Linked DNA regions of Homo sapiens: all the other regions are reported to be linked to region 4. The links are microRNA targets in miRTarBase. Many come from high-throughput screens and were not tested one by one. Region 4 holds a microRNA gene; each other region holds the end of a gene's coding sequence. Distances are from middle to middle.
The links. Region 4 holds the annotated microRNA hsa-miR-5697 (UCAAGUAGUUUCAUGAUAAAGG, at 3,650-3,671, opposite strand). A microRNA usually pairs through its seed, bases 2 to 8, with sites in the 3' UTR of a target mRNA and lowers its output. Matches are read on the target gene's strand: a 7mer-m8 pairs with bases 2 to 8, a 7mer-A1 pairs with bases 2 to 7 and ends in A, and an 8mer does both.

Region 1 (7,426 bases), not on the chromosome of region 4:
GACGCCGGGATAGCTGCAAGGGGAGCTTTTACAGCCCCTAGATTTACGATGCACTTGTCCTCACGTGCGAGTTCCCCTTTAGGAATATACATTCTGATATCCTAAGCTTAATGCTTACTCCAGTGCTTGGCATGTGGTAGTGTTCCAGAAACATGGGCCATCCAGACCCAAGGGCCTCCATTCCGTCCTCACCTCTGGAATTAAAAATGTGAAATAAGTGCCATAGAACTCTAATTTCAATTCTCGAAGAGTGAATGATGTCAGCATCTTCGGCCATTTCCCCCTACTGAACCATGATGGTTTCTCCCAGTGAGTAAATTCATAAAGCTTCTCTACGTGTCTTGCAGACTGTGAAAGGGGGCATTTCAGAGACAAGAATTGAGAAGCGAATAGTCATCACGGGGGATGCAGACATTGACCATGACCAGGTAGTGTGTGTGAGACGGTAAATACCCTGGCAGAGAAACAAAGAAAAACCTGTTGGTCCTACAGTTTCAATGCTATTCCTCTAGTCCAGCATGTATTCCGAAGAAAATTCCGAATTAACTTTCCAATATATGATTTATGATTCCTTTTGTAATCATTGTACCTCATTTGTAAATTGTGGATATAGATCTAGCTCATAAGTCTCCACCTCACCACTGATCATGCATGTTCCACCTCCTTTTTGTTTCTGCCCTTCTGTGATTTCCCGGGGATAGGCGCTGGCTCAGGCAATTAAAGAGGCCAAAGAGCAGCACCCTGACATGTCAGTGACCAAAGTAGTGGTCCATAAAGAGACAGAGATCACACCAGAAGATGGAGAGGATTGACCAGAGGTAAGAGGTGATGCCGATTCTCTAGGCTTGCCTAGGCTGGCATGAGGCATGGGGCACTTCCCTCTCATCCTTCACCTGATCCCTCCTTTCCTCTGTTCTCTCACTGGCATTTGTTGGGCTGGTTACCAAGAGGATGGAGAATTGGTTTATGGGTTTGTCTCACATTTGGAGCTTCCATTCTTGTGGAGTTTTTGCATGCACTGCCAGTTAGAGGATAAAGGAAGAGCAGAGTCTATGCTTCTATGCTTGTGTGGTCTTCCTGGTGTTCCCTTTTATTCCATGGCCTGCACTCTTTGATTATCCAAATTTGTAATGGCAAATTTGATTTTACTTGCCATGTGGCCTAATTGGAACAAAGGCAGTTTTGCTCTGAGAGGCTCAATTTGTGTGTTCCAAATACTAGGGAAATAATATATACCCCTTTCTCCTTCTGATGGCAACATTATCCCGTCGTAAGCTTTCTCTTCAACTGTGTTTGATTGTAACCTGTTTATGCTTTTGTCTTTAGTTTTGTTTTTTTAATTTGAAAGCTGAGCACTCACTTTCTTTTTGGATGTCTTATATTTCCTGTATTCTTTGGGATGATTTTTCTCCCTAGCGTAGCACTGTCTCAGAAGGAGGCAAAAAAAATGCAGTCTTGTGGTCCTGTAGAAAGCACATACCTTTCCAGTGACTGTTTGGCCAGCATCATGAGCAGACTATATCATCTATGTGAGCACAGACTTGTCATGCATAGTCACCTGCCATGCAAGATCTCATGGGGCCATGAGCGTTTCTGAGAGGGCTTTGAATGCTGAATGCAGCAGTCGAGCGACTTGCACAACTTGGTGATGTGATAAAATGTTTAAGAGATTTCATATATTAGTAAGTTTTCTAACATCGGTTTAAGAAACAAATTGATGAGTGGCATCTCTTAAAAGAGAAATATAAAAAATACTCATTTTACTCAAATGAATAATATATTTTGGACGATAGCAAAAAAAATAAAACAGATTTCTTCCATGAGCTTCAGCCACTTGGGCGTTGTTGTAATTACTTAAGAGAAAGCATGTAATTGGCAGTGACTTAACGCTGGAATGTCATGGCATCTTGTCCAAACGAGCATTCTAACTTCCAGGATACTTTTTTTGTGTCCTTGATCTGAGAAAATCTTTCAGTTGTTTTCAAATGAGTAACTAATCAAATGTCTTTTTTGCAGGAATAACTTAGCTTGCACATGAATGCAGTCATGCAAACCGTTAGGAAAACCAGAGCCTATATGGAGTTCCCTCTTCTAACCCAACTGACTTGTATCTGTCCGTGGAAAATTTCAGTCCAGAAGAATTGACCTTGACCATTAATAAAGACACTGGCAGAGAGATCTTCCCATAATAAAGCAATCTGATTCAGCATCACTAAACCGATAATGCATGAAGCAACGATAAAATTACAAAAGAGCAGCATTTTTAATTTTCACAAAATGTCTCAGTTTTCAGCTATACCTGCACGTTCATAACCAACAATATAAACCGTGGTCTCATGTAACACATAAACAATTCATGCCTTTCATAGTTTATTATTATTAAAGTCTAAACAAAATTGCAATTTCTTAGGTAACCTTATATTTACAATAAATGAAGATTACCCTCAAATGCTAGAAGCTGTCTAGGTCCGTCCGGTGTGTCAGATTTTCCTCAGATTAGATGTGCCAATAACCAAGTTTATTCAGTAAACAACTTGTACTTGTTTCATCTGGTTTTATTACTCTCACCCATAAACAGTAATGACTCTCTGACCCTCTGGAAATATGTAATGCTTCCAATCTTGCTTTGTGTATCTCATTTAATTTGTTATAAGGTAGTACTGATTTTAGCATATTAATGCGATTTCTTCCTTGTTGTTTGCTTTGGTCTGTGTTCAATCCAGAGAGCTTAAATTGTCATTATTTTGGGAAGAAAACCTGTATTTTTGTTAGTTTACAATATTATGAAATTTCACTTCAGGAGAAACTGCTGGGCTTCCTGTGGCTTTGTTTTCTTAGTTACTTTTTCCGTGCCGTGTATTTTTTAATTGATTTTTCTTCTTTTACTTGAAAAGAAAGTGTTTTATTTTCAAATCTGGTCCATATTTACATTCTAGTTCAGAGCCAAGCCTTAAACTGTACAGAATTTCCACTGTAATTAAAACTATTTAGTGTTAGTTATAAATAGCCTTCAAAAAGAGAGATTCTCCATTACACGATCACCTGCATCACAGCCCATGGTGAATGTATGTTTCTGCATAGCGAAATAAAAATGGCAAATGCACTGAAAGCTCTAAGTTTGTATGTTTAATAATTTCAGTATTGTATGTGTTTAGTCCAGAAGTAATATTTGCATGACATCAAAGGCCTTATTCAGCTGCACGGTAGAGATATCCTGTCTTTACAAGATTGAAAAAAAAAAACCCCACAGAGTATACAGTATGCAGTGTCTGTACCCTTTGAGGGATTGAAGATGGGAACAAAGCAGATATATTTAAATATTTGGTTGCCTAAGAAGGCTTTAAAAAATACATCATTGAATCTCATCCTCAAAGTTTTAGGTTTTTTTTTTAATAAGAGACAAGGCTGTGCTATGAAACAGGGTTGCTCAGCCTGCAATCTCATGACCTGTTTTAACAATCACTGTCCCCGTCATCCATTTCCTTCGTTATATCCATCTCTTCCCAGCACATCCATTGCTCTGTTAAGTCAATGTCGACCCTAGTTGTTTTAAAAAATCAACATGGAGTCTGGAGTGTGAATTTGAAGTTGCTTCTAACTTACAAATGAGTGTTACACGTTCCTTCCATTAAGTGCTTTTTTTTTTTTTTTTTTTTTTTTTTTTAGTCTTTCTTACTGCTTCAAATTAACCGGTATGGAAGTTTCTGCCTTGGGTTGCCATAGAGGTGGCCCTGTATTTTAATGGGCATTTACTCATGAAGTAAAATTGGACTGTTCCATTTAAAAAAAAAAAAATTGTGACAGGCCATCGGTGCATGTAAAATTGTGTTCTCAGAAATGACATTTGTTTTGACAAATAGTTTCTTATCAGAGCTGTGTAAGCTCTGAAGGAGGGTGACAGAAGGACCTGATCCTCCCCCATGAGTGTGGCTATTAACACACGCATGCATGCACGCATATGCTCTGCTCAGGAAATGGGGATGGGACAGCAGAAAGACTGGCTCCGAGGGGCTTTGTCGTGCCCTATCTCGACATCACTCCACTGTTGCTGGTACAGAACACCGTCATGTGGTTTAATGCCACAAAATTTCAGGGACACTAAAAGACATCTAACTTGATAACAAGAGGTCAATTCTAAGAATAAACCTTACAAAGAAGTAGCTATGAATAAAAACAACATTCATATGGGTGTTCTGTTCATCCTATTACATGAGTCAGAAACCTGGGAGACTTGGGCACCAGTGTCTTTCTTGCCCATCATTTTCCCAGCCTGCCAATAACATTTCTTCACAGTCTCTTTAATCTAGCCAAGGCAGTGTACCTAGATTATTCCAGTAGCTCACTGACTCATGTTCTCACATCACTTCAGTCCCTTACACTGTAGCTTGCAATCTTTCAAGAAATACAAATGTAATCTTCTCATCCTTGTGCTTAAAATGTGTTTTTGGCTTTCTATCGCTTGTAGTATAAAGACCTTAATTTTTTTTTCTTCAACTTTTAGATTCAGAGGGCACATGGGCAAGTTTGTTGCATGGGTATATTGCATGATGCTGAGGTTTGGGGTATGATTTAACCCAGCACCTAGGTAACGAGCATAGTACCCAATAGACAGTTTTTCAACCCTTGCCTGCCTCCCCCATCTCGTAGTCTGCAGTGTCTATTGTTCCCATCTTTGTGTCCACGTGTGCCTAATGTTTAGTTCCCACTTATACATGAGAACATGCAGCATTTGGTTTTCTGAATCTGTATTAGCTCGCTTAACAATAATGGCCTCCAGCTGCATCCATGTTGCTGCACAAGATGTGATTTTGTTCTTTTTTATGGCTGTGTAGTATTCCATGGTGTGTATGCAGCACATTTTCTATCCAATCCACCATGGGTAGACACACCTGGGTTGATACCATGTCTTTACAATTGTGAATAGTGCTGTGATGAACGTATGCATGCATGGGTCTTTATGGTAGAATGATTTATATTCCTTTGGGCATATACCCAGGAATGGGATTGTTGGGTTGAATGGTAGTTCTATTTTTAGTTCTTTGAGAAATCTGCAAACTGCTTTCTACAGTGACTGAACTAATTTACCTTCCCACCAACAGTGTATAAGTGTTCCCTTTTCTCCACAGCCCACCACGATTCTGGTTTTTGTTTTGTTTTGTTTTTGTTTGTTTGTTTTGAGACGGAGTCTTACACTGTCACCCAAGCTGGAGTGCAGTGGCACCATCTCGGCTCACTGCAACGTCTGCCTCCCGGGTTCAAGTAAGTCTCCTGCCTCAGGTTTCTGAGTAGCTGGGATTACAGGTGCGTACCACTCATGCTGGGCTAATTTTTGTATTTTTAGTAGAGACGGGGTTCCACCACATTGGCCAGGCTGGTCTCGAACTCCTGACCTCAGGTGACCCGGCTGCCTTGGCCTCCCAAAGTGCTGAGATTACAAGAGTGAGCCACTGCGCCTGACCTTTTTTTTTTTTTTTTTTTTTTTTTTTTTTTTTTTTTTTTTACTTTTTAATAGCCATTCTGAATGGTGTGAGGTGGTATCTCATTATGGTTTTGATTTGCATTTCTCTGATGACTAGTGATGTTGAGAATTTTTTCATACGTTTATTAGCCACTTGTATGTCTTCTTTTGAGAATTGTCTGTTCATGTCCTTTGCCCACTTCTTAATGGGGTTATTTTTTGCTTGTGGGTTTATTTAAGTTCTTTATAGATTCTGGACATTAGTCCTTTGTCAGATGCATAGTCTGTGAATATTTTCTCCCATTCTGTAGATTGCCTGTTTACTCTGTTGGTAGTTTCTTTTGCTGTGCAGAAGGTCTTTAATTAGGTCCAACTTGCCAATATTTGTTTTTGTGGCAATTGCTTTTGAGGACTTAGCCATAAATTCTTTGCCAAGAAAGGCTTCAATTCTTCTAACCTGGCCCGAAGCCTTGCATGGACTGGCTGCTCCCCACCTACTTCTCCAGCCACAGATGCAACAGTGTGTCTGCTTACTCTGTGATCCCTGTCCGCCTCCACCACACTGGTGAAGTGCTGGAACTATTCTCAGCCCTGTTTTACTGGGCCCCAAATTTTGTTATAGGTTTGAGCTCAAATGTTCCCTTCCTGATTTTACAGATCAGCTTTCCCTATTATACACTCTCAAAGCAACATTTTTAGTAGAAAATTTCATGATTGTCATTTTTATTTATCTGCCCAATTCTTTGAATGAATCTCTTCTGCGTGCCATGGGTCTCACAGATGGCCCACATCCAAGCATAGTGCCTCCATAAGTGGTGCTCAATATTTGTATGAATGAATGAACACATTGATAAAGGTTACTTTGCTAAGATAAATTTGAAACATCAGTTTTTTTCCGAGTTTTCTCTGAAGCCCAGCAAGTGTGGGGGAGTGGCTCCCCATGGAAACAGTTCCTATTTCAGGTCCCTCAACAGCTCTCATGATTATGCCATTGTCATTGAGTCAGTCACTGGGAATCACCCCCTCAGCAAATGATGGTCTCTCCCAGAGATCTGCCATTCATTAGATATGACGGGTTGGGTTCAGCTCTCTGATTAGAAGGGGTTACACATTATTTCACATGTACTGATGTCAGCCTCAGTTCAGTTGACATCCGGTCAAGGTCTGTTATTGTTGAGCTCTAAACTTTAAGTATATTTGAAAGTGGTCTTGGAAGCTGGAGTTGCCCTATTTCAAAGAGTCGAATAGTAAATTTCACTAGATACACCATTTGTAGATAATGGAAGTCTTAACCACTTCATAATATCTTTCTTTCTCAAGTTCATTAATTATTCAGTCTTGGCATAGCAGAGGTAAGAGAGTAAGTAATACAGGCTTAAAACCCTGGGGTTAGTTTCAACTCCTTTATTTCCTTTGCAGTGTGAAAGATCCATTACATGTAACCTTCCTTTACCATCCTACTTTAAGCCCTCATATCTCTCACCTGGACTGTTGATCAGCTGCTAACTGGTCTCTAGGTTCCATTCATCTACTACTACCACCCCACCCCAATGCCCCCTGCTCCCCACACCCCAAGTTCTTTAGGCTGCTCATTTGTCATTCTTAAAGGTGCCATCATGACACAACTAAAAAATCCTTTGGGGATATCCCTCACTCATTCCCTAAGGCTCAATTCTGAACTCCTAAACTTGAGTTAAAACTACGTATCGGCCAGGTGCGGTGGCTCACGCCTGTAATCCCAGCACTTTGGGAGGCCGAGGCAGGCAGGTCACGAGGTCAGGAGACCGAGACTATCCTGGCTAACACAGTGAAACCCCGTCTCTACTAAAAATACAAAAAAATTAGCCGGGCATGGTGGCGGGCACCTGTAGTCCCAGCTACTCGGGAGGCTGAGGCAGGAGAATGGCGTGAACCTGGGAGGCGGAGCTTGCAGTGAGCCGAGATCGCACCACTGCACTCCAGCCTGGG
Region 2 (7,945 bases), 47 Mb from region 4:
CCAAAGCCTCCCTGATACTAATATTTATCTCTGATAATTCACTCATTTGTTGTTTTCTTTTAGAAGACTTAGAGAGGCTGAGGTGGGTGGATCACCTGAGGTCACGAGTTCGAGACCAGCCTGGCCAACATGGTGAAATCCTGTCTCTATTAAAATACAAAAAATTAGCTGGGCGTGGTGGCACGTGCCTGTAATCTCAGCTACTAGGGAGGCTGAGGCAGGAGAATTGCTTGAACCTGGGAGGTGGAAGTGGCAGTGAGATGAGATTGCACCACTGTACTCCAGCCTGGGTGACAGAGCAAGAATCTGTCTCAAAAAAATAAAAAAGCAGGAGGCCTGGATCAGCAGCACCCCACTCTACTGGTGCCAATTTACTGTATTAGCCCATTTTCATGCTGCTGATAAAGACCTATCTGAGACGGGACAATTTATAAAAGAAAGAGGTTTATGGGACTTACAGTTCCACATGTCTGGGGAGGCCTCACAATCATGGCGAAAGGTGAAAGGAACATCTCACATGGCAGCAGACAAGAGAACAGGGCTTGTACAGGGAAACTCCCCTTTTTAAAACCATCTGATCTCGTGAGACGTATTCACTACCACGAGAACAGTGCAGGAAAGACCCGCCCCTATAATTCAATCACTTCCCACCGGCTTCCTCCCACAACACGTGGGAATTCAAGATGAGATTTGGGTGGGGACACAGCCAAACCATATCAGAGGGGTTTATGCAAAAACAAACAAACAAACTTGACATTTCTTGTCAGAGTCAGATGTTCTAGAAGGGATGCTTACACAGGGTCACAGGGTAGGGAGCAGATCCAGGTCTTTCTTTTCTTTTCTTTTTTTTTTATTTTGAGACAGTATCTTGTTCTGTTGTCCAGGCTGGAGTGCAGTGGTGCGATTTCGGCTCACTGCAAGCTCCGCCTCCTAGGTTCACGCCATTCTCCTACCTCAGCCTCCCCAGTAGCTGGGACTACAGGCGCCCGCCATCATGCCTGGCTAATTTTTTGTATTTTTAGTAGAGACGAGGTTTCACCGTGTTAGCCAGGATGGTCTCGATCTCCTGACCTCGTGATCCGCCCGCCTGGGCCTCCCAAAGTGCTGGGATTACAGGCATGAGCCATTGTGCCCGGCCAGGTCCAGGTCTTTCTGATTCCTTCCATGTCACAGCACTTCATAAAGGCCCCTCCTCCCCATCACACTACTGGGATTATTTACTCATTATTTACTAGACCTACATTCTAGGCTCTCGGCTCCTGAAAGGCCGGGCTCTTTTCATTCATTTTGTTGGGTCAGTGCCCTAACCAGACTTTAGCTCTAGGTGGGTCTCAGGGAAGCCCTCCTCAATAGCAGGTCCTCCTGCTGAGAGCTCTCATAGCTCCTCCTGCATTCTTTCTTCAGAACACTCATCCCATTTCTTAGTTACATATTTGTAATTTGACTGTTTGTATTCGTCTTTAGACTATAAGCTCCTCGAAGCTGGCATCCCATTTTATCTACTGTTTTACTTCTGGTGTTTACCAGTGCCTGGTACACAGGAAGTGATTAATAAATATTAGTCAATGGATAATTGAAGTCATTTAGATCAGAATCCCAGATCTATCCCATATTAGATGTGTGAACTGAAACAAGATTCTTAACAGCTTCAGTTTCTCACTCAGTAAAATGAGACTATTCATAGCTACATTTTTTATTCTGTATTTTTTTATTGATATATCATAGTTGTACAAACATTTGGAGTACATGTGATACTTTGATACATGTGTGTGATATACAATGATCAAATCAGGGTAATGGGGATATCCATCATCTAAAACATTTATCTTTTCTTTATGTTGGGAACATTGCAATTCTTCTCTTCTAGTTATTTTGAAATACACAATAAATTATTGTTAACTACAATTTCTCTAATATACTATCCAATATTAGAACTTACTCCTTCTATCAATTGTATTTTTTTACCTATCAACCAACTTCTCTTCATTTCCCCCCAATCCTATCTACTTTAACAGTGGTTTTTGAAGATTTAAATGAAGCAGACTGCATGAAAGTACCTGCGTCAGGATTTTGCACATAAACAGTTCTTTGGAAATACTTTGGAATCAACGAATGAATGTACGAATTTATTCTAACTGGCAGGAATCTTATGCAGATTTCTAGCTGTTAAAGTTTTTGTTTTTTTCCATCTCTACCTCAGAGGAAATTTAAGTCCTCATTAATTCCTAAGGACAGGGTCAATGTTTTGCAATTCTCTATGTCCCTGCAGCCTGTTTAATTGGATGGTTACCAAGAATCATGTGACTTTTTGACCCGGGTGATGATTAATTGGTTCAAAATTGCCGGGAACTATTCAGTGCCAGGCAGACATGCAGGATTTGCAGAGGATAAGACTTGCTTCTGCCCCTGAGAATCTGACAGTCTTGATACAGATCTTTATGCATGCAATTTTGGTACATTAAGCTAAGAGGTTACCGATGTCTGCACCCAGCATGCTCCGAGCCAAGCCCCGGAGGAGTGTGGCTTGGGGGAAGCACACCTGAACAGAGTCTGCAGGTTTAATGAGCAAAGAGTGGGGGTATTTCTCAAACCTTATTGTGCATGTAGATCACCTGGGGATCCTACCCAAAGGAAGATTCTGATTCTGTAGGTTGGGGTGGGGCAGGGGTTCTCCTAGGTCTATATTTCTACCAAGCTCCCCAGGGATACAAATGTTGTTAGTCCGTGAACCCCATTTAAAGAAGCAAGTCAAGGCTCACAGACTGCCATGAGCAAAGAGGTATAAAAACAGATCTTGTAAATCTCATCTTTAACGAGCAATAACCCAAGGCTCAGAGAGGTTAAGAAACGTGTCCAAAGTCACATCACATAGCCAGGAAGTGTCAGAGCCAAGACTGCAACCTGGGTCTGAGTCCCCAGGTCCTTGTTTCCTTCTCCACATCATGCTGCTCCTCACAATACCACGCAGCTCCATTGTTTCCTTAAGTCCGCATGAAACGGGGCTACTTCTCAAGTTTGGTTTGTCAAGTACTGTTGGAAGATAAAATGGAAAGACTGGGGTACTCGGATCAGGAGGCTTGGGCTCTGGTCTCACCAGTCCCTCCACTCCCTGGGTGCCTTCCCTCTCCTACCCCCACCAACAAGAGTTGTTCTGCCCCTCTGGACACTGGTTCTTCAGATTTGAAGTGAAAATTTGGCCTCTGGCCTTAAGGATCTTACTAGCTACATTTTGGGGCTCAAACGGACATCACCACTTATATAAAAATGCTGTGAAATTGCTGAGCTATTCCAGGGGCTGGAGGGGACTGCATTGTCCAGCAGCAAAGAGCAGGCTGACCTTGGTGGCAAGAAACCAGACATGAGCCACTTGGGTCTATTTCCAGGCCTTGAAGCCAAATGGAGCATCCCTGGCTGGATTTTTCTTTCCTTTTTTTTTTTTAGACAGAGTCTCACTCCACTGCCCAGGCTGGAGTGCAGTGGTGCAATCTCGGCTCAGTGCAACCTCTGCCTCCTGGGTTCAAGTGATTCTCCTGCCTCAGCCTCCAGAGTAGCTGGGATTACAGGAGTGTGCCACCACACCCAGCTAATCTTTTGTATTTTTAGTAGATGAGATTTCACCACGTTGGCCAGGCTGGTCTTGAACTCCTGACCTCAAGTGATCTGCCTGCCTCGGCCTCCCAAAGTGCTGGGATTACAGGCATGAGTGAGCCATCATGCCTGGTCCCTGCTGGATTTTGAAGTTGCTGGGGACTGATGACTTCTTTTTTCCGTCTATTTCTCTCTCTCTCTCCTTTTTTTTTTTTTTTTGAGACAGTGTCACTCTGTCGCCCAGGCTGGAGTGCAGTGGCGGGATCTCGGCTAACTGCAAGCTCCCCCTCCCGGGTTCACGCCATTCTCCTGCCTCAGCCTCCCAAGTAGCTGGGACTATAGGCGCCCACCACCACGCCCGGCTAATTTTTTTGTATTTTTAGTAGAGATGGGGTTTCACCATGTTAGCCAGGATGATCTCAATCTCCTGAACTCGTGGTCCGCCTGCCTCGGCCTCCCAAAGTGCTGGGATTACAGGAGTGAAACATCACGCCTGGCTTCTCTCCCTTTTTAAATAGGAATGTCTATAACTGTTATTCTATGCCTGTTTCACCAGTGAATTTAGGGAGCAGATAACTTGTTTCTTAATTTTCACAGGTTCATAGAGAGCAATGTATTCCAGGGTGGATTAAACATGGAGCCTCCTTTTTACCTAATTTGAATGGGTTAGTTTAGATGATGAGATTTGGGGTGTTTAAGTTGTTAAGATTTAGGATTTTGACTTGATACTGCCATATCCTAGGTCTTTAGGGGATGTGGGGATAGGGTGATCTGTTTTGCATTTGGGATGGATGTGAATCTTTTGAGGGCCAGAGGGTGAACTCTGGTACTCTGAATAATGGTTCCCGAAATATGGCCATGTCTTAGATCCCTGGCATCTGTGAATATATGTTCCATGGCAAAGAGGAATTAAGGCAGCAGATTGAATTAAGTTTGCCAGTGAACTGACTTTAATATAGGTGATTATCCTAGATTATGAGCAGGTCTGTGTAATCAGCAAGGAGGGCCTTTACATGTGAAAGGGGTGGCAGAAGAGGAGAACCAAAGAGATGGCAGGGTGAGGACTCTACCCAATGTTGCTTCCTCCATGTGAACATGAAGAGGGCCACAAGCCAGGGAAAGTGGGTGGCCTCTAAAAACAGAAAAGGCAAGGAAACAGCTTCTTGCCTAGAGCCTCCAAGATTGTAAGACAATACATCTATGCTGTTTTACGTTTGTGGTAATTTGTTATAGCCGCTATAGCAAATTAATATAAGACCTATCCTACAATTTAATGCTCTAGGATCTTAGACTAATCATTTCATCTTTGCATTCTTTAGTATTCTTTCTTTCTCAAAATAACTGCTGTGAAGATCAGACAGAACAAATAGGCAGAAATCCCTGGCACACAGGTGCTCAATAAATGTGAATTTCTAGCTTCCCCTTTTCTTCCAGGTTGGAGAAACACAAGGAAGGGAAGCAGGAGCCACAGGCCATTCTCAGCCTTCCTTTGATGTGGGCTGTGTACAGGATTCCCTCAGTAAGCTCCCCCAGCATACCTTATCTAGAGTGAGGGCTGCTTATCTGCCCTCGGGGTTCCTACAGCTCCTACCTCTCTGATGGAAAAATCCTCTTTAGAATACAAAAGCTCTTTAGAAGAGCCTGAGATGAGGGTAGAGCCAGGGCCTCATTCTGCAAACAGGCTTTCAGAGATGAAAGAGCAGGGCAGACATCGGTATCTACCCTATGACCACCACATTTCCCACTGAAAAAAATCAGGAGTTGGTGCGCTGAGATGAGGCAAGCCCACTCAAAGAGGCCAGCCCGCGATGCTTCCTTCTCCTACCCACACACCTGAGACAAACATCTCTCAAACACTCCAGGCTTGCAAGTCCTTAATTAGTTGTGTTACGAGCTTTTATTTAAAAAGCACATTTAATACAAGTATAGTTTCGCAGATACAAGTTTTCACTTTGTATGCTACAAAAGTCTTTGAATATTATTCTCTTTACAAAATGGAACCTTACAAAAATACTGACAATTTAATGTTTTTATACAGTTTTCTCTAGTTGCAGTTATTTCATTATAAAACAATGTCTACCACAGAACTATGATATTTTAGTTGATATTTAAAAAAATTAACTCAATGCTTTTTTAAGCAGCTAATGTAAATAACACAGGTCGAGACACAGTTTATAATCATAGTGGATATAGCTAAATTGTTTCAGAAATAATATCTTACATAGTTAACTTTTAATGTTTTATACATTATTTATATAATATTTATATATAAAAATCATAGCTTGCTATAAGTTGAAATGAAAGGACGGATTCTGTAGTAAGGATGTGCATGTGGTTGATCCATATGGTTACATTTAACCCTTTGAAAGGTCTGCATCCAAGATCTAAACGCATTTCTTCCTTCCTCCTTTCCTCAAAGGTTCAGTAGAAGGGGTCCCTGTCTATCACCTAGAGTGGGACCTTGCATGGAAGGACACTTACGGATAGAGGATGAGGGAAACTCTCTACCGAGATTTAACCCATATGTTCTGCCCAGCAGAACCTACCAAGAACTGCCCTAGGGCTCAACCCCAAGACAATAGTGCTTTACACAGCAAGAGCAACTCCTACAAAGACCCTCAGCTCTGTCATCCTGAAGGGTAACCTCTCATGCATGAGACTGCCTGCTTCTCTGGCTCCTTCTGATTTGCAACAGCTAAAAGGTTGGTTCGATTTTCATTCTGCCCCCTTCACCCTCCCATCTGTTGTACAGAAGGCTGCTTTCCGTCAGCTGGTGGCAGACCATGCCTTGCTCATTCCTGGGCCCTCACAGGAAATCCTGGTGGGCACGCAGCAAGGATTTCAAGGGAGAAGGCAGTAACCGAAGTCGAACTGTTTCTAAGAGTATGCAAGTGCCCGGTGATTGACGTGCACAACATCAGCATCCTGCAATTGACATTTCAACATCACAGGATGATGCGTCAAAAGAAGAAAAGTGAGGGCCTGTGCCCTCGATTTCTTCTGAAATTGTGCTGTTTGTGAAATTCACTCGTCCACAAAGAGTCTGCTAATCACTAATGTGAGGAACTATGGTTGTTGGCCTATGGGCAGGGGAGGTGATAAGGCCTTAGAACTGGGAATCTAGATTCGGGATCTGATCACTTGACTGAGCAAACTTGCTCTTTCCTTTTATTTAAAACACAAAACAAAACTTCCTGAACTAAAGTCACAGTACAGAATAGAATGGGATGGACAGAAAGACTCAAGAGGGCAGCTCCGCAATGGCTATTTTCTTGATTCAGTGCTATTTCTGGCATCATGTGCTGCAATGTGAATTTTTGCTTTTCTCACAGGCCTGGGATTCCTCAGGTCACAAAAGGTGACCAGCAGCCTCTACTCAAATCGTTTTAGTGTTTGTTCCTGAACAAGCTGTGTTCACTAGAACATGAACACTTAAACCAATTGCACATCCAGGACTCTGGCACTTGGTGTTAGTTTGCTGTTGTTTCCACATAGGCAAACACTACCTATTTTGGAAGGCCACATAGTAAAACATTTTTTTTTTCCTTTTTAAAAATCAGTCGGGCAAAAGTTTTTCCCTACATTCTACTGTCTGATGAGATTGGAGAGCAGCAAGAACTTGCTGTCAGCAGTCATTTTACAAAAACAGCTCAGGAGGTGGGTGGCACCTACATCATGTTGTGGTGATTGTTCCTGTCAATAATGTCCACAGGTGAAAGGATTTCCTTCCGGATAGCAGGGGCAGGCAGGGAGAGCGTCGTCTTAGTCTTGAAGAGGTCAGACACGAAGAAAACCTAGAAGCACAAATCAGAGATCGAAGTCAGTAACTGACATCGGGGGTCTGGGTACAGAGGGAAAAGGAAGGTCAGAGGAGCGCAGACTTCAGGAAAAGGGGCCCCAAATCATAACTCTTTGAATAGGGAAGGACAACAGAGATCATATCATCAAGGTTTATTGTACAGATAGGGAAACTGAGACCCGGGAAAAGGCAGTGACATGTCCCAGGTTGCACAACACTGGTTCAGTAGAATCCACTTCTAAGGACTCTCAGTCCATTGCCCATATCTGCAACCCATACTTCCTTATTTCTCAAGGCAAACGAATAGCAATGAAAGATAAGTTCCTCAACAAAGGAAGCAGGTCATAATTAGTGATAGTCATTAATTCACACTACTTTCCCTTTCCTCACAAAGGAATCCAGGGTGTAACCGAAAAAGATCAGCCAACATGAACTCCTATCAGCAAGAGCTGAAGTCAGGCAGTGGTAACTACTTTTTCCTGAAAACTTAGTGATATCAACCATTTGACGGGGGTCAAGAAACCAGGTTCTCGTTGCTGAGAAAGTTGGCAACTAAAC
Region 3 (8,275 bases), not on the chromosome of region 4:
TCTTGGTCCCCTGGGATTGGCAGCAATACCTGGTGAGGCGTTTCATGACTGTCCCCATAAGGGAGAAAGTAAGTGAAGGTTTTCCATGCTGCATCTCCTCAAAAGGAGCAATGGTGTTGACTTCTCAGTTTCTGGCTCCTGAGCATGTGCACAGATATCTTCTAGAAGAGAATAGATTTTTACATAGTGGGGGTTGAGCTGTTATAATTTGAGAAGACTGGAAATGGTGACCTGGAGCCAGTACATGTCCATGGGATCCATGAAGCAGGGGGATTTGCTTTGTTATGTTTTGCAGGGGATGTAAGTAAAACAGCAATCAAGTTTTGAAAAATTTTAACATGAGAAAATGTTTACAATAATGTTACAGGAGATAATATGTAATAATAATGGCAATAGGTAAATAGAAAAAATACTGAAAGAAGTTACACCAAAATGTTAATTGTGATTATCTTGGATCGATGAAATCATGGGTACTTTTTGTTTTCTTCTTTATGTATTTGTACAGTTTGTCTATACAGACTAATTCTAATTTTCCAAAATGAGAATATGTTATTTTCCTTAACAGAAAAATAAGATAGAGTAGTGACAGACTATAATCAACAGAACCATTAATATGGAAACAACCTAAACGACCTGTGATAGGGGATTCATAAAGACAAACTGAAGCTATGGTACAGCCATATAACATAGTGTGCACTTATCACTGTGATCAGAGTGTGACATTCAAAGATTTTTATTATACGTTGTTAAGTGGAAAAACATAGGATAGGAAAAAGAATATATAGTAAATCCTATATAGCACATGTAAATATATGTAAATGTATATGTAAATATGTACCTTTCTGGAAGAACATAAATGAAAATGTTATGGGGAATGCGATTATTGGTAATGCTTTTATTTTTTGCTTATCTGTTTTTTCTAATTTTCTGCACTAAAACATGGATTGTTTACACAATAAGTGAATGTTTATATAACTCAAATCCAAAGACATTCTTAGAGTAATAATGTCCTATAAGAGATAGTAGCAAATCATATATTTATAAGCAATGTTGCCATCTGCTGGATCACAGGGAGAAACTCACCCTCTTTCTTTTTCATTTGGAATTAGGAAATGAAGGCCAGGTAGAGTGGCATGTTTCAGACAAATGCCTAGACAGTAATAGTGACTTAACACAAGAGTTCTTTTGATTCACATAAAAAAGAAGTAATCTAGTGACCGAGTGGGACCCGGATCCTGAGTACCGCTGTTCAATTTCATGTAAAAATTTAAAAATATCTTATACTAAGTGTGTTTGCAGGCACACTTATCCATAAAGACAATTCTGAGTTATCCATTTTATGGATTTTTTGGGGGGAAAGGTTTATGTCCTAACATAACTTTTTTCAGCTGCTTGGCATGGTACTCAGCCCACAGCAACACTGCGAAAATTTGTGGAGTAAATGATTACTTCTGGCTGACTTAATGCAACCAACAGTTTGACGTATTTTTATGGAATATAAATTAATTTATATATGAACCAATCACAGCATTAGCTCTCTTGATATGTAAACATAAAATAATAAAATGCTTCCTAAAGCCAAATGATGGTAGTTTATCTGCCATTTTGGATAAACTACCTTGCCACTTCTCATCATCATCGGACTCACTTCTTCATTTCATTCAGCACACTCACTGAATGTAACTTTTCTCACTCACCGTTTTTATTATGTGCATAAAAACCTAAATATTTTCACAGTATCTCTATGGAAAAATACTGTTAATGTTTACCTTCCCCGTTATTCCAGTTTCCCAGAAAGCCTAGTGGCTGGATGTCATAGTTTGGGCCGCTGTTGCAAAATGCCATAAACTTGTTTGCTGGTAAACAAGAGGAATGTATTTCTCACAGTTGTGGAGTCTGGAAAAGTCTGGGAAATGCAGGATCATGGTGGGAAATGCAGGATCACGACTCTGGCCCATTCAGGATCTGGCGAGGGCCTGCCTGGGGGAGGGACCACTTCCTGCTTCCTGGACACAGTGCTGTCTTGCTGTGTCCTCACATGGTAAAAGGGGGAAGGCAGCTCTCTCAGGCCTCTGTTATGAGGTACTAGTACCACGAATGAGGGCTTGGGCCTCATGAACGAACCACCTCTTAAAGGCCCCACCTCCTTAGACCATCACATTGGGAGTCAGGATTTCAACATTGGAGTTTTGGGGCAACACAGACCATAGAAGTGGTAGACTGCTGCCTTTGAGAACTAATCCTTGCTTTCCTTACCACACTGCAGGTGAGCTGATCAACCTTGCCATGTACTGTGAGAGGATAAGGAGGAAATTTTGGCCAGAGTGGCACCACGATGATGACAATACCATCTATGAGTCTGAGGAGAGCAGCGAAGGCAGCAAAACCCACACCCCGCTGCTGGATTTTAGCTTTTACTCAAGGACAGAGACCTTTGAAGATGAGGGAGCAGAAAACAGTTTTTCCAGAACCCCAGACACAGATTTTACTGGACACTCACTCTTTGATTCGGATGTGGACATGGATGACTATACAGACCACGAACAGTGCAAGTGACGTCCAGCCTCACTGACCCTCTTCCTTGGGACCTGCCACTCCCTGGGTCGGTCCATTTTCCCAGGTAGCAATCCATCCGAGCTGGGAGGAGATCTTCGTGCTTGGCAGAGTTTTCACATGCTAACTGGACTATAGCAGCCTTATTTCTTTTTTGTACAAACAAAACACAGAACCATTCAGATGACTCCATTGAAAACAAACAGGCAAAAAATAATGTCAGCATGGTTCCTGAAATCCATTTTTGTTTTCATTAGAAAACTATTAATAATATTGTGTGGTAGAGCAGGTGTAAGAGCTGGTTGTCAGCTGATAGTTTTTATGATGATCCTCTTCAACCCTGAGGTCTTAATTGTGAGATGGATTCTTGAACCTCCTTCCTCCACCAGGATTTGAAGTAATGAGAGATATCATCAGAAAAATGTTTTACGGTGGCTGCTTGTACTTTATGTGTGTATATTGTATGTTGAGACATAAGTCAAATAAAATCCACAGATATTAAACGAACACCTACTATGTGCAAAGCACTGTGCTAGGTGCTAATCAGTATACATTTTATTCTAAGCCCTGCCAGTGACTAGCTGTGTGATTTTGAGCAAATCTCTTATTAACTATTGGGTGCCTCATTTCTCCCACCTGTAAAGTGGGGATGACAATACTCTCCACCTACCTACCTCACAGGGGTGTTGTGGGGATTCATGTGGTAACATTCGTACGGCGCTTTAAACCTCTTAGAAGTGGTGCGACATAAACACAGCATTTTATTCTTTATTGCACTTCATGCATGTGAAGATTTGAGGGCAAAGGAATTCCATATCCAGGCAACCACCACCACAGTCACCTGCAAAAGCTGAGCAGATGAAATACACACAAAGGTACACTTAGGACTTTGTCATGATTCCTTTCTGTAATCTTGGCTGAATCAAAATCTTTTGTTCAAAGAACATTGGAAATGTTTTTACAAATTATCGACAGCTACAAACAGTCTTCAATTCTACCATGTATTTGCAGAAAAGTGGTTCTTTCATTGCCTGAACTCACCCTGGCATGTTCTGTGTTGACTCCAGAGTGTTACGTTGCCTATGTTTGATTTATTTGAGAAGAATAAATCTCAGGTATATGGCAGGTTTCATAGAGTTGAAGGGAAAGTATTTCATTGATTTTTATAAGCAGAAGCCTGCCAACTTGTAATGTCTTTTTGAAAACAAACCTTGCAAAGATGTATTGAAAAGATGAAGTAGCAAGAGGATACTTGTATCAAAGCACTCTGTGCAGTGTTAGACTATATGCAGTTTTATTAATGCAACTTTTCTGGTGTTTTCAGCCACTGCCCAGTGAGAGGAGAGCAATGCTGAGAACAAGTCTTAATGTTTTTGCTGTCTCATCCCCGTTCTCTCTCTCTTTCCCTATAGTATTCGATGAACTGTTGGCTTACCCATATTTGTGAAGGCACCCTATTTCTAAAGATGAAGTTGTTGTTGTTGTTGTTGTTTTGACTTAGGACATTTTCCAGGGAAATATGGGGCAGAGATCCTGGGTGATGGCTGTGAGATTTGGGCTAGGAGAGCCAAGATTTACAATTGCAAACAAAACTGCTTTGCTTCTGACCAACATAAGGATTGCTCATTATGGGGTTAAAGAGGCACTTCTTAAAATACAGCAACTTCTGAGAAATCCATGCACTTTACTTGAAAAAAAAAAAACCTCTTTTTGAATATAGCATTTGCAAAACAATCTTAAAAGACTGCTGTAGATTCACAAAGAGGTAAAGGGAGGAGAGTTTTTCAGACTGCTTACCACTTAAGCAATTGTGTAGGGCATATGTAACTGGGAATACGTGCTGAGATACCCTAAGTTAGAAATTCTTATTCCATGGGAAACTTAGTTGTTAATATCTTATTAAAACCATTCTTATTTAAAGGGACTGTTTGATGCCTAATAAGAATGTGGTGGAGAAGATATGAATGGATAAGCCTGTTTGAGGCTGCAGCATCATTTGGGAGGACTGTTTGCCTCCCCTCTCTCTAGCAAGTGTGTTTTAAGGCCAACTGGTGGCATTTCTGTGTGACTAGGGAGACTCCTGGACTGAAAATATGAATATAATGAACAGGTGGACTGCAGACCTGTCTCCACAAAGCATGGGTTGTCCTTTTCCCACCACATTTTAGTAGAAAAGAAATGTATTTGAATTTTTTTCTATGAACAATCTATCTTACTGTACAGTACCAAGTGTGATGTATTTTCTCTCAAAGGATGATTAAGTTATGAGAATGTAGATTAATATATGTTTTTAATTTTATATTACTTGGAATACAAGTATGTGGAGAACCAACTTTGAAAATGAAGTTGTAAAATAAGTCATTCCATCCAGGTACCTCTTACAGGGGCATGAATGGACATTGCTATCTGGAGTCTTGGGCAATTGCCTGACAGCATATAACTGGGCATCAACATTTTGTAGGTGTTAATTTGATTTAGAGCCCTAGAATATGCCCCTGCTTTACTTTCCCAAGGCGGGTTATGCAAACAAAATAACCAAGACAAAGTCACCATAGTGTGAGTCTTTATCCGGAAGGATTTAATTTTATGTGCTTCATTCTTAAGCTACCCAGATTTGAAATGTTCTCCAATTTCATGAACAGGTGCTAATTATAGGAAAAAACTATAAGAAGTTAAGGGACATTTTGGTCATCTGGCTTCTTGTTCAAGTTCTGTGTTTCCTTTTTGCTGGAAGGTAACTTGAAGTATGTGATCTTTAATGTTAACAGATGCTTTTGGTTGGACAACAGACCCATAGGCTATTCGTTCTTTTTTTCCTGTCATTGTAAAAGTAAATCAAGCTCTTGCATCCACCTCTCTTTGCCCATCTGTACCCCCACTCAACAAGATTAATGAGCAGAATCATTGAGCTTTACTCTCCATCAGAACAGATATAAGGACAATCTATATTTATGCAATGATGAACTATATTGTCAGCATTTACCAATTTGTTGTTGTTACATAATGAATTGTAGAAAGTGACACTACCAAGGCTGTGGGCTACCCAGGAGACTAATCACGGACCTGGAACAACTTGGACTTGAATCAGACTGCAGTCTACTCCTCAAGTGAGCCCTGCCCATGTATACTGTGGTGTTAGGGTATATTTTTGTGAAATAGCTAAGGTTCAAGGAACAGACATACTAAGGATTTTGGCCTTGTGGGTCTTGCTTAGATTTGTTTGAGAGATAATGTAGAGTCATAGAAATGTATAGCTGTGCTAAAAATTAGCTGTAGAAAGCACCTTATTGGCTCAGTGTCACATACATACTTATTTGAAGGGCAGGACCAAAAACTGAGGTCAATATGGTTCTTTCCATTACACCACGTTGCCCTTGATGGTTTCTTTCTATTATACCACCTTGCCCTTGATGGTTCTTTCCATTATACCACTGTGGCTTTGTTGTCTTATAAAATGCATGTTACCTGAGAAGTCACCCTGTGTTCAGACAACCAGCACATCTCCAGCCATTCCCTGGTTGGAATCCTACTTCGCTTTTGTCCATGTCCTGTCAGCCTGGTCAAGACCAATACAAGAGACCTCTCATCAGTGCAGGGTATTGCTAGACTCTGAAGAATAGCAAGATGGATTCCCAAATCACCAAGACTCCTCATACTTCCTTATGTATCTTTTAAAGAACCCATGTCCATTCCCTCACTTGCTGAATATTTACAGAGCACCTACCCTGTGCCTGGCCCTGGGATCTACACTGGTTGTAGAGTGGCAAATAGAACAGCATAGAACTCTGATTTCAGGGCATCCTCTTTTGCCTAGACTTCTCTAGCCTCTTTTACGTACTTGGCCATTTCCCTGTTCCATTCCATCCACTACAAATGGATTAATCTTTCTAAAAAGCTCTTTGGCCCTGATGGGGTGTGGCATTGCCTCAGGGTGAGGGGCTACTCCTTAGGGTCTGGTGTTTTCACCTTTGTTCACCTTGTCTCCATAGCTCCTCCATGGGAGCCATCCAGTGCAGCCAGGTTGATCCATTTGCCATTGCCTAAAAAAGCCTCATGTGGCCCACCTCTGTGCCTCTGCTCATGCCAGTCCTTCTCCTGAAATGTTCTATTCTCTGCTCCACTGGCCCAAGTCATGCCCATCTCTCAAGGTCTGACTTCGTCAGCTTCACATGAAGGCTTCCCAGCTGATTATAATCTCTTCCTTTGAAAATGAAGCACTCATCACTTCCTTCCCTGAAGGTTGCATGGGAAAGATGCTCAGAGAGTGAGTCACATACCATTAAATAGTGAATTTTCACTTTTTGTTTGTCAGGAACTCCACTGATAATCCAACGAAAGTTCTATACCCTATTCCCAGAAAAACACATATATGCAAATACATAAAATGTTACATATAAATTCAGGAAATTTAGAGACCTCCTGAAATTATCCATGGTTTCCTCAGGGGGTTAATGGACCCCAGTTAAAGAGTCTTGTTCCCAAGAGTCTTTAAATGTTATCATTGTGTTTGTTCTTGTTTTTAACACAGCCAGAGAGAAGAAAAATTAGTACAGGCTATGCAAGCAAAAGTAATCTCTATTATCCATGTTCAGTATGTCTTGAGTGACAGAAAAGAAGAAAGAAGTGCTCTTAGGTTATTTGAGAAAATTTTGTTTTAGAGGTTTGGAATTTTGAAAGTCATAGGATTTTGTTGTTGTCCTTGTCATTTATCTTTTAACCACCCCCAAAATTGATTTATCAAAATGAGTTCAGGGCCAAGTGCGCTTCCTTTCAGCCCTGAAACCCACCGCTTCTGCATGGATAGGGCAACCAGCCTGGGCTGAAGGTGGGAGAGAAGAGGCTGGATTTTTCTTCCTTAAAGAAGAAAGGTCTGCACAATCAGGTTTTCCTGTATTCATTTATTCATTCATTCATAGAACAATTGTTGAGTGTATTTTCAATAAAAGGTTGGTGGCTTTTGTTGATAGGGAACAACTCAGGTTATTCTTCTTTCTTTCTTTTAGGGTTTTTTTTTTTTTTAAACAGAGTATGTTATTTTATTGTTCCTGACTATGACCCAGGATCCTTTGTTCTCCTTTATATGCAGTGCTATTTAAGTCAAACTAGAACTGATAAAAGTACACTCAATGACGAATACTTCCCAGGCTAAATGCTGGGCTCTGGGAACCCATCTTTAACAGGTCCAGGGATCAATTGCATGTGATTGTGAAGTGCTTGACCTTTATTCAGTTGCTTCCAGTGGTCTGGATATAACTTGGGAAGTTCAAAAGGATTCCCTTGTTGGGTGAGGAGGGACGGGCCTCTTACCTGTAAGACTCTTGCTACTGTCAGGCGTGGATGCGAACATCTGTGGCATGTTTTCCTCATCTGAATTCCTTACCCAGAAACTCAGATTTTTGGTCCCTGACTTTCAAGAATATCTTAAGGATATTTAAGTTTCCTTAATCTTTGAGATGAGACTGCTGGAACCAGCAACGTTAGCCTTGCCAGTTAGAGATGATTACAGAGGGCACTGAAGCATAGATTTAAAAAAAAGGGGTTCAGCTGTTTTGGAGCTGACAGGGTGACCTCCTCAACCATTCTGCTTTCGCCGAAGCAAGGAACTTGTCCCCAGACCTAGACCCTCTAAAACTCCTGCTATTGGCTGGACCATGACAAACTAGGATGCTCAAATTTCATAAGGATGATTGCCTTAAATTGTAAAATTGGTAGACAAATAAAG
Region 4 (8,275 bases):
TCCATCTGCTCAGACACATAAGCAAACCCAAGTGAGATCAACCAAACCTGGCTCAGATCGTCAAGCCAACAAGCTGACCCTAGTCTCAAAAACAAAAAATTAGTGTTCATTATCATATGTCACTCAAGTTTTGTGATTGCACTATTGTGGCCACAGTTAATTAATACAACAATATTATCATCTACCAAATACAGCATTTTTGCCTTTTAGTCAACATGATAGTAACATCATAACTTTCCACTAAATAATAGAATATAATTTACAAACCTCTTTTTCATATCAGTTATTCCACTGATCCTTCCATAACCCTAATGAAGTAACATAAGGCATCCAATTTTAGGTTTTTATTAAAATTTCTTTTTTTTTTTTTTGAGACGGGAGTCTCACTCTGTTGCCCAGGCTGGAGTGCATTGGCGCGATCTCAGCTCACTGCAAGCTCCGCCTCCCAGGTTCACACCATTCTTCTGCCTCAGCCTCCCGAGTAGCTGGGATTACAGGTGCCTGCCACCACACCTGCCTAATTTTTTGTATTTTTAGTAGAGACGGGGTTTCATCATGTTAGATGGTCTTCATCTCCTGACCTTGTGATCCGCCTGCCTCAGCTTCCCAAAGTGCTGGGATTACAGGCGTGAGCCACTGCGCCTGGCCTAAAATTTCTTATTCAACTAATTCATATATATAGATCTAGAACATCACAGGGTAAAAAAGGCCCTTAATGAAAACCAACAGCCATCAATCATATTCCACTCATCATCCCTTCCATCCAACCACTTTTAACTTTTTCAGCTATTTCTTCTGGTAGTTTCTACCATAACTCTACATTATGTGCTTATAATGCCATTTCTTAATTTATCCAACTATAACAGTGCCCATTGACTTTATGATCTATAAAGATTAGCCCTCATACCCTTTGACTACCTTCTCCCAAACTGCCCAATATAGTTTATCTCCAGACTATGTTGAAAATCATCTTCTCTCACAACTTCAAAGGCATTACTTCTAGATTCCAATGTTAATAGCATGAAATCCAAAGCCACTTCTAATTCCGGAGCTTTTGAATGTCATTTTTTTCCTGTCTTGAAGCATGTAAGGTCTTCTCTTTGTCCGCAGTGTTCTGAAATTTCACAGTGCTGTCCTCTAGTGCAGCTTTGTTTCTATCCATCATGCTGAGCACAGGGCAAGCAGGTCCTTTCAGTCTGGAAACTTGTAACATTCAGTTCTAGAAAATGTCCTTGAGTTCTTTCATTGATGATTTTCTGCCTCCCATTTTATCTGTTCTTTTGAAATGTCTATTATTTATTTATTTTTTTGAGACAGAGTCTCCCTCTCTCACCCAGGCTGGAGTGCAGTGGCACGATCTCAGCTCACTGCAACCTCCACCTCCCAGGTTCAAGCAATTCTCCTGCCTCAGCCTCCCAAGTAGCTGGGACTACAGGCATGCACCACCACACCCAGATAACTTTTGAATTTTTAGTAGAGATGGGTTTCACCATGTTAGCTAGGCTGGTCTCGAACTCCTGGCCTCAAGTGATCCACCCACCTCAGCCGCCCATGAACCACTGTGCCTGGCCTGAAAATGTCTATTATTTAGAGCTGAAGCATCTAATCATTTTTTCTGTATTTTCCACCTCCTGCCTTCATGCTCTAATTTCCTGATAGCCTCAACTTCATCCTCCAATCTGCCTAGTTTTCACTTCTGCCATTACACTCTTAATTTCCAAGAGCCCTATCCTCTGAATACTCCTGTTTATGGTATTCTACTCATTTCCCCAACAGATTATCATCTCTATTTCTCTACCAATATTCATGATATATTTTAAAGTTTCTTCAAAAAGAGCTGATGGGACAGGCTGAGTGGGTAGGTAGGGCTTGTGCACAGGGGCCATAACTGTTCAGTAACCTGTCAGTACCGCAGGTCTTTTTGCTTGGATTAGTCAGACTCTACAAGAAAGTATCCTACAATTTCCCGCCTATATAACAGAAGAGTTAAGAGCCTATGCTCTGATATTAGGCTGCCTGGCTTCAAATTGCAGCTCCAACGGCATGACCTTGGGCAACCTAACCCTAACTTAACCTTCCTTTTGTGCCAGGTTTTTTCTTTGGCTTTTTTTTTTTTTTTTTGAGACAGAGTCTCGCTCTGTCACCCAGGCTGGGGTGCAGTGGTACGATCTCAGCTCACTGCAACCTCTGCCTTCCAGGTTCAAGCAATCCTCCCTGCTTCAGCCTCCCAAGTAGCTGGGATTACAGGCACGTGCCACCACACCTGGCTAATTTTTTTTTTTTTTTTTTTGAGACAGAGTCTCGCCCTGTCGCCCAGGCTGGAGTGCAGTGGCATGATCTCGACTCACTGCAAGCTCCGCCTACTGGGTTCATGCCATTCTCCTGCCTCAGCCTCCCGAGTAGCTGGGACTATAGGTGCCCGCCACCACTCCTGGCTAATTATTTTTTGTATTTTTAGTACAGACGGGGTTTCACCATGTTAGCCAGGATGGTCTTGATCTCCTGACCTTAAGTGATCCACCTGCCTCGGCCTCCCAGAGTATTGGCATTACAGGCATGAGCCACAGTGCCCACCTTGTCCCAGTTTTTAATCAATCTTAAAAAGGAGAAAATAATACTACCTACCTCCTGATTGTTGTGAGGATTAAATGAAACAATACAGATCCAAGACATAGAACTACATTTGGCAGGCCAGGCGCGGCGGCTCACGCCTGTAATCCCAGCACTTTGGGAGGCCAAGATGGGCAGATCACGAGGTCAGGAGATCGAGACCACCCTGGCTAACATGGTGAAACCCCATCTCTACTAAAAACACAAAAAAATTAGCCAGGCGTGGTGGCGGGCACCTGTAGTCCCAGCTACTCGGGAGGCTGAGGCAGGAGAACGGCGTGAACCCAGGAGGCGGAGCTTGCAGCAAGCCAAGATCGTGCCACTGCACTCCAGCCTGGGCAACAGAGCGAGACTCCATCTCAAAAAAAAACAAAAAAAAAAACTACATTTGGCAAATAGCAAACATGCTATGAATATAGCTATTATGAATGTTGCAAATTATGTTACTAGAATTGTCTTTTGTTTTTTGATTTTTGAGACAGTATCTCACTCTGTTGTCCAGGCTGGAGTACAGTGGTACAATCTCAGCTCACTGCAACCTCCATCTCCCAGGCTCAAGTGATCCTTCGACCTCAGCCTCCCAAGCAGCTGGGACTACAGGCATGCACTGGCTAATTGTTTTTTTGTATTTTTTGTAGAGATGGGGTTTTGCCATATTGCCCAGGCTGGTCTCAAACTCCTGGGCTCAGAATCTCGAAGCGAACCTGTCCACTTTGGCCAATTCCAAAGTGCTGGGCTTACAGGTATGAGCCACTGTGCTCAGCAAGCAATTTTTTTTTTAATCAACAAAACATCAATTTCAAATGGTTTAATTTACAATTGCTATTCTATTCAATCTGTTTTTTTCCCAGAGGATTTTCTTTCTGGAACTCTCCTCCTCTTATCCAGATGAAAAATCTCTATTTGTGAAGCTATTATTCTGAAAACTTCTTCATCTCTTTCCTGGGTTAGATCCCCTATTTATTTCTCGCTTTGCTTTCTAATCTTTCTGGAGCGTATCCTCAAGCGTTTCATGATAAAGGGTTGATCTCTCATACACCCTTTATCATGAAACTACTTGAGAATATGCTCCAGTAGGATTCGTGGGAGATCAAGTAAGTTTGATAGGCGCATGGGAGATCAAGTAAGTTCGACGATGTTGTTATTCTTCCTTCAATTATTAATGGCTTGAGAAAATTCTTTTCAACTCAATAATTTCAAATAATTTTTTTTTTGCGGGGAGCCGGGGGGACTTAGTTTCACTCTGTCACCCAGGCTGGAGTGCAGTGGAAAGATCTTGGCTCACTGCAACCTCTGCCTCCCAGGTTTAAGCAATTCTCCTGCCTCACCCTCCTGAGTAGCTGGGATTATAGATGCCTGCCAACATGCCCAGCTAATTTTTGTATTTTTAGTAGACACAGGGTTTCACCACTTTGGCCAGGTTGGTCTTGAACTCCTGACCTCAGGTGATCTGCCCGCCACGGCCTTTTAAAGTGTTGGGATTACAGGCTCGAGCCACTGTGCCCAGCCCAAATAATTTTTGAAATTATTCTTTTAAGATTATAAAGGCACTTCTTCATTGTTTGCTGGCATTCAACATTGCTGTTGAAAGTCTGAGGTCATTCTAATCCTTGTTCCTTTATGTGTAACCTGCTTTTACTTTCTAGAAGATGTGTAGTATATTATCTTATCCCTAGTACTCTGGAATGCCCAGTGATGACAGTATCTTTTTCATTCATTGTACAGAACCTTTTAAATGCTGCCTACTAGTTTTCAACAAGTTAAAAAAATAACTTTGCTATTGTAAAGGTTTTCAAATAAATATTTGTATATAATTATATATACATACTTTTTTTTTTGAGACTAAGTCTCACTCTGCTGCTCAGGCTGGAGTGCAGTGGCAAAATCTTGGCTCACTGCAATTTCCATCTCCTGGGTTCAAGCGATTCTCCTGCCTCAGCCTCCTGAGTAGCTAAGAATACAGGTGCCTGCCACCATGCCCAGCTAATTTTTGTATTTTTAGTAGAGATGGGGTTTCACCATGTTGGCTAGGCTGGTCTTGAACTCCTGACCTCAGGTGATCTGCCTGCCTCAGCCTCCCACAGCGTTGGGATTACAGGCGTGAGCCACCGCGCCCGGTCAATAATATTTATAAATAATTTCTTTCTGTTTTGAGATGGAGTCTCCCTCTGTTGCCCACGGTGGAGTGCAGTGGCACGATCTCAGCTCACTGCAGCCTCTGCCTCCCAGGTTACAGTGATTCTCCTGCCTCAGCCTCCCAAGTAGCTGGGACTACAGGCATGCCCCACCATGCCTGGCTAATTTTCGTATTTTTGGTAGAGACGGGGTTTCACCATGTTGGCCAGGCTGGTCTCAAACTCCTAACCTCAAGTGATCTGACTGCTTCAGCCTCCCGAAGTGTTGAGATTACAGGCGTGAGCCACCGTGCCCAGCCAAATACTTCTGAATAAAATTTTTTTTTTTGAGAAAGGATCTCGGTGTGTTGCCCAGGCTGGAGTCCAATGGCATGATCACAGGTCACTGCAGCCTCTGCCTCCTAGGCTCAAATGATCTTCCTGCCTCAGCCTCCAAGTAGCTGGGACCACAAGCACATGCCACCACACCTGGCTATATTTTTTAAATCTTTTGCAGAGACAGGGTCTCACTATGTTGTCAAGGTGGGTCTCAGATTCCTGGCCTCCTGCCTCAGCCTCTCAAAGGGATTACAGGCATGAGCTACTGTGCTTGGACTTCAAAATAAATATTCTTGGCCAGGTGCGGTTGCTCACACCTGTAATCCCAGCACTTTGGGAGGTCAAAGCAGAGAGATCGCTTGAGGTCAGGAGTTCAAGACCAGCTTGACCAACATGGTGAAACCCCATCTCTACCAAAAATACAAAAATTAGCGAGTGTGGTGGCGCACACATGTAATCCCAGGTACTTGGGAGGCTGAGGCAGGAGAATCACTTGAACCTGGCAGGCAGGGGTTGCAGTGAGCCGAGACTGCACCACTGCACTCCAGCCTGGGTGACAGAGCGAGACTCTGTCTCAAAATAACAACAATAATATAAAAATTAAAAAGTAATAAATATTCTTATATATCCAAAGAATGTCTTAAAAATAATCATTCTGAGATCTTTTTTTTTTTTTTTTTTTGAGATGGAGTCTCGCTCTGTTGCCAAGCTGGAGTGCAGTGGCACAATCTCAGCTCACTGCAACCTCCGCCTCCTGGGTTCAAGCGATTCTCCTGCCTCAGCCTCCTGAGCATCTGGGACTACAGGCCCACGCCACCACACCCAGCTAATTTTTGTATTTTTAGTAGAGACAGGGTTTCACCATGTTCGCCAGGATGGTCTTGATCTCTTGACCTGGTGATCCACCCGCCTCGGCCTCCCAAAGTGCTGGAATTACAGGCATGAGCCAACACACCTGGCCCTGAGATCTTATAAATATAATTCCAGTGACATAATCTTGCTCAAAGTATTTTCAAAACTTTGGGGAATTTTTTGTAGAGCTTGAAGCTTTTTTTTTTTTTTTTTTTTGTCGCCCAGGTTGGAGTGCAGTGGCACAATCTTGGCTCACTGCAACCTCTACCTCCCTGGCTCAAGTGATTCTCCTGCCTCAGCCTCCCGAGTAGCTGGGACTACAGGTGTGCGTCACCATGCTGGCCAATTTTTTGTATTTTTAGTAGAGATGGGGTTTCACCGTGTTAGCCCAGGATGGTCTTGATCTCCTGACCTCATGATCCGCCTGCCTCGGCTTCCCAAAATGCTGGAATTAGAGGCATGAGCCACCGTGCCTGGCCGCTTGAAGCATTTTTATAATTAACATAGAAATATAGCAAATGACAATAAACACATCAATAGTTATATGCTACTTTTGGTTTACAAAAACAAAAGTATAGAATACTTTTATTTTTTCTTTTTGAGACGGGGTCTTGTTCTGTCACCCAGGCTGGGAAAGCTGGGAGGTTTAGCTTGAACATGGCTCACTGCAGCCACGATCTCCTGGGCTCAAGGATCCTCCTGCCTCAGCTACTCGTGTAGCTGGGACTGCAGGCACACATCACCACACCCAGCTTATCTTTCTATTTTTTTGTAGAGAAGGAGTCTCATTTTGTTGCCCAGGCTCTGCTTCCCACTTTGGGAAGTGGAGGTGGGAGGATTGCTTGAGCCCAGGATTTCAAGACCAAGGGCTCAAGTGATCCTCCCACCTACACTTCTCAAAGTGCTGGGATTACAGGTGTGAACCACCACACCTGGCTTTATAAAAATACTTTCGGCCCGGTGTGGTAGCTCACACCTGTAATCCCTGCACTTTGGGAGGCCGAGGTAGGTGGGTCACTTGAGGCCAGGAGTTTGAGACCAGCCTGGCCAACATGGTGAAATCCCATCCCTACCAAAAGTATAAAAATTAGCCAGGTGTGGTGGCTGGTGCCTGTAATCCCAGCTACTTGGGAGGCTGAGGCACAAGAATTACTTGAACCCAGGAGGCAGAGGTTGCAGTGAGCTGAGATCACGCCTCAGCACTCCAGCCTGAGTGATAGGGTGAGACTCTGTCTCAAAAATAAAATAAAATAAAATAAAATTCATACACATTGTCATTTGATTCTCACTGCAAAAAAATAACTTGGCCAAAAGCAATTAGCATGTTCCAAATGATAATCTATAGTTAATTCAGTTTTTCCAGTTAATCTTCGACCTTTGGATATTTAGGTTTTTCTAATTTTTCACTATTACAAACATCTCAAAAAAGAAATAATGGGGGCCAGATGCGGTGGCTCACGCCTGTAATCCCAGCACTTTGGGAGGCTGAGGTGGGCGGATCACGAGGTCAGAAGTTCGAGACCAGCCTGGCCAACATGGTGAAACCGTCTCTACTAAAAAATACAAAAATTCGCTGGGCGTGGTGGTGTGCGCCTGTAATCCCAGGTACTCGGGAGGCTGAGGCAGGATAATTGTTTGAACCCGGGAGATGGAGGTTGCAGTGAGCCTAGATTGTGCCACTGCACTCCAGACTGGGGGACACAGCAAGACGCCATCTTGGAAAAAAAAAAAAAGAAATAGTGGGTTAAAAATAAATCTGGAAATTAAGGCTATGCAATGCCTCACTGTGTACATCTAAGACTTGGCAATACTGAAAACACCTGTGTCAAGACTGTTCATTTGTAGCCCAATAGTAGTCAGACATAACTGCTAGGCTGACCAACTTGCTTTTGTTCAGATTTTATGCTGTCAGTGGACAAAGCTAGTGAATGGCACATCAGGACTAGAATTTAGGTTTCCTGACTCTTAAGCTCTCTCACCAAGAAGAAAAATGGGAGATAAACTGGAACAGTGTAGATTGGAATTGAGCCCTCTCATAGCTAAGGAGTTGAGAAATATAAACTTTAACCCCTTGGACAATGGGAACCTTTGAAGGTTTCTGAGCAAAGGAGTGACAACAGGGTTCTCAAAATAATATGACATGGGTGTTAAAAACCCTTATTTGGGGCCAGGCACGGTGGCTCACACCTGTAATCCCAGCACTTTGGGAGGCCGAGACGGGCGGATCACGAGGTCAGGAGATCGAGACCATCCTGGCTAAAACGGTGAAACCCTGTCTCTACTAAAAATACAAAAAATTAGCCGGGTGTGTTGGCAGGCACCTGTAGTCCCAGCTACTCGGGAGGCTGAGGCGGGAGAAT

Region 1: the mRNA of EPB41L3 is a reported target of hsa-miR-5697. Seed matches in the 3' UTR shown: 7mer-A1 at 2,884-2,890.
Region 2: the mRNA of PLPP3 is a reported target of hsa-miR-5697. The part of its 3' UTR that is shown has no 7-base or 8-base seed match.
Region 3: the mRNA of FAXC is a reported target of hsa-miR-5697. Seed matches in the 3' UTR shown: 7mer-A1 at 4,239-4,245.

The regions. Positions count from the first base shown.
Region 1 is chr18:5,388,069-5,395,494 of GRCh38, reverse strand. EPB41L3 (erythrocyte membrane protein band 4.1 like 3) reads left to right here. Exons shown (of 23, transcript NM_012307.5): 21 at 348-428; 22 at 702-818; 23 at 2,017-3,109. The coding sequence ends at 812. Among named protein-coding and RNA genes, the nearest start is that of ZBTB14, 96 kb to the right of the region's middle. RefSeq lists an enhancer at 1-62.
Region 2 is chr1:56,489,295-56,497,239 of GRCh38, forward strand. It overlaps PLPP3 (phospholipid phosphatase 3), which reads right to left. Exons shown (of 6, transcript NM_003713.5): 6 at 5,467-7,382. The coding sequence ends at 7,257. Among named protein-coding and RNA genes, the nearest start is that of LINC01767, 78 kb to the left of the region's middle. RefSeq lists enhancers at 1,103-1,602, 4,783-5,441.
Region 3 is chr6:99,275,445-99,283,719 of GRCh38, reverse strand. FAXC (failed axon connections homolog, metaxin like GST domain containing) reads left to right here. Exons shown (of 6, transcript NM_032511.4): 6 at 2,267-8,275. The coding sequence ends at 2,556. Among named protein-coding and RNA genes, the nearest start is that of FAXC, 70 kb to the left of the region's middle.
Region 4 is chr1:9,962,786-9,971,060 of GRCh38, reverse strand. It overlaps MIR5697 (microRNA 5697), which reads right to left and starts at 3,680; the gene lies at 3,603-3,680. The region is part of intron 1 of NMNAT1 (nicotinamide nucleotide adenylyltransferase 1); the gene reads right to left.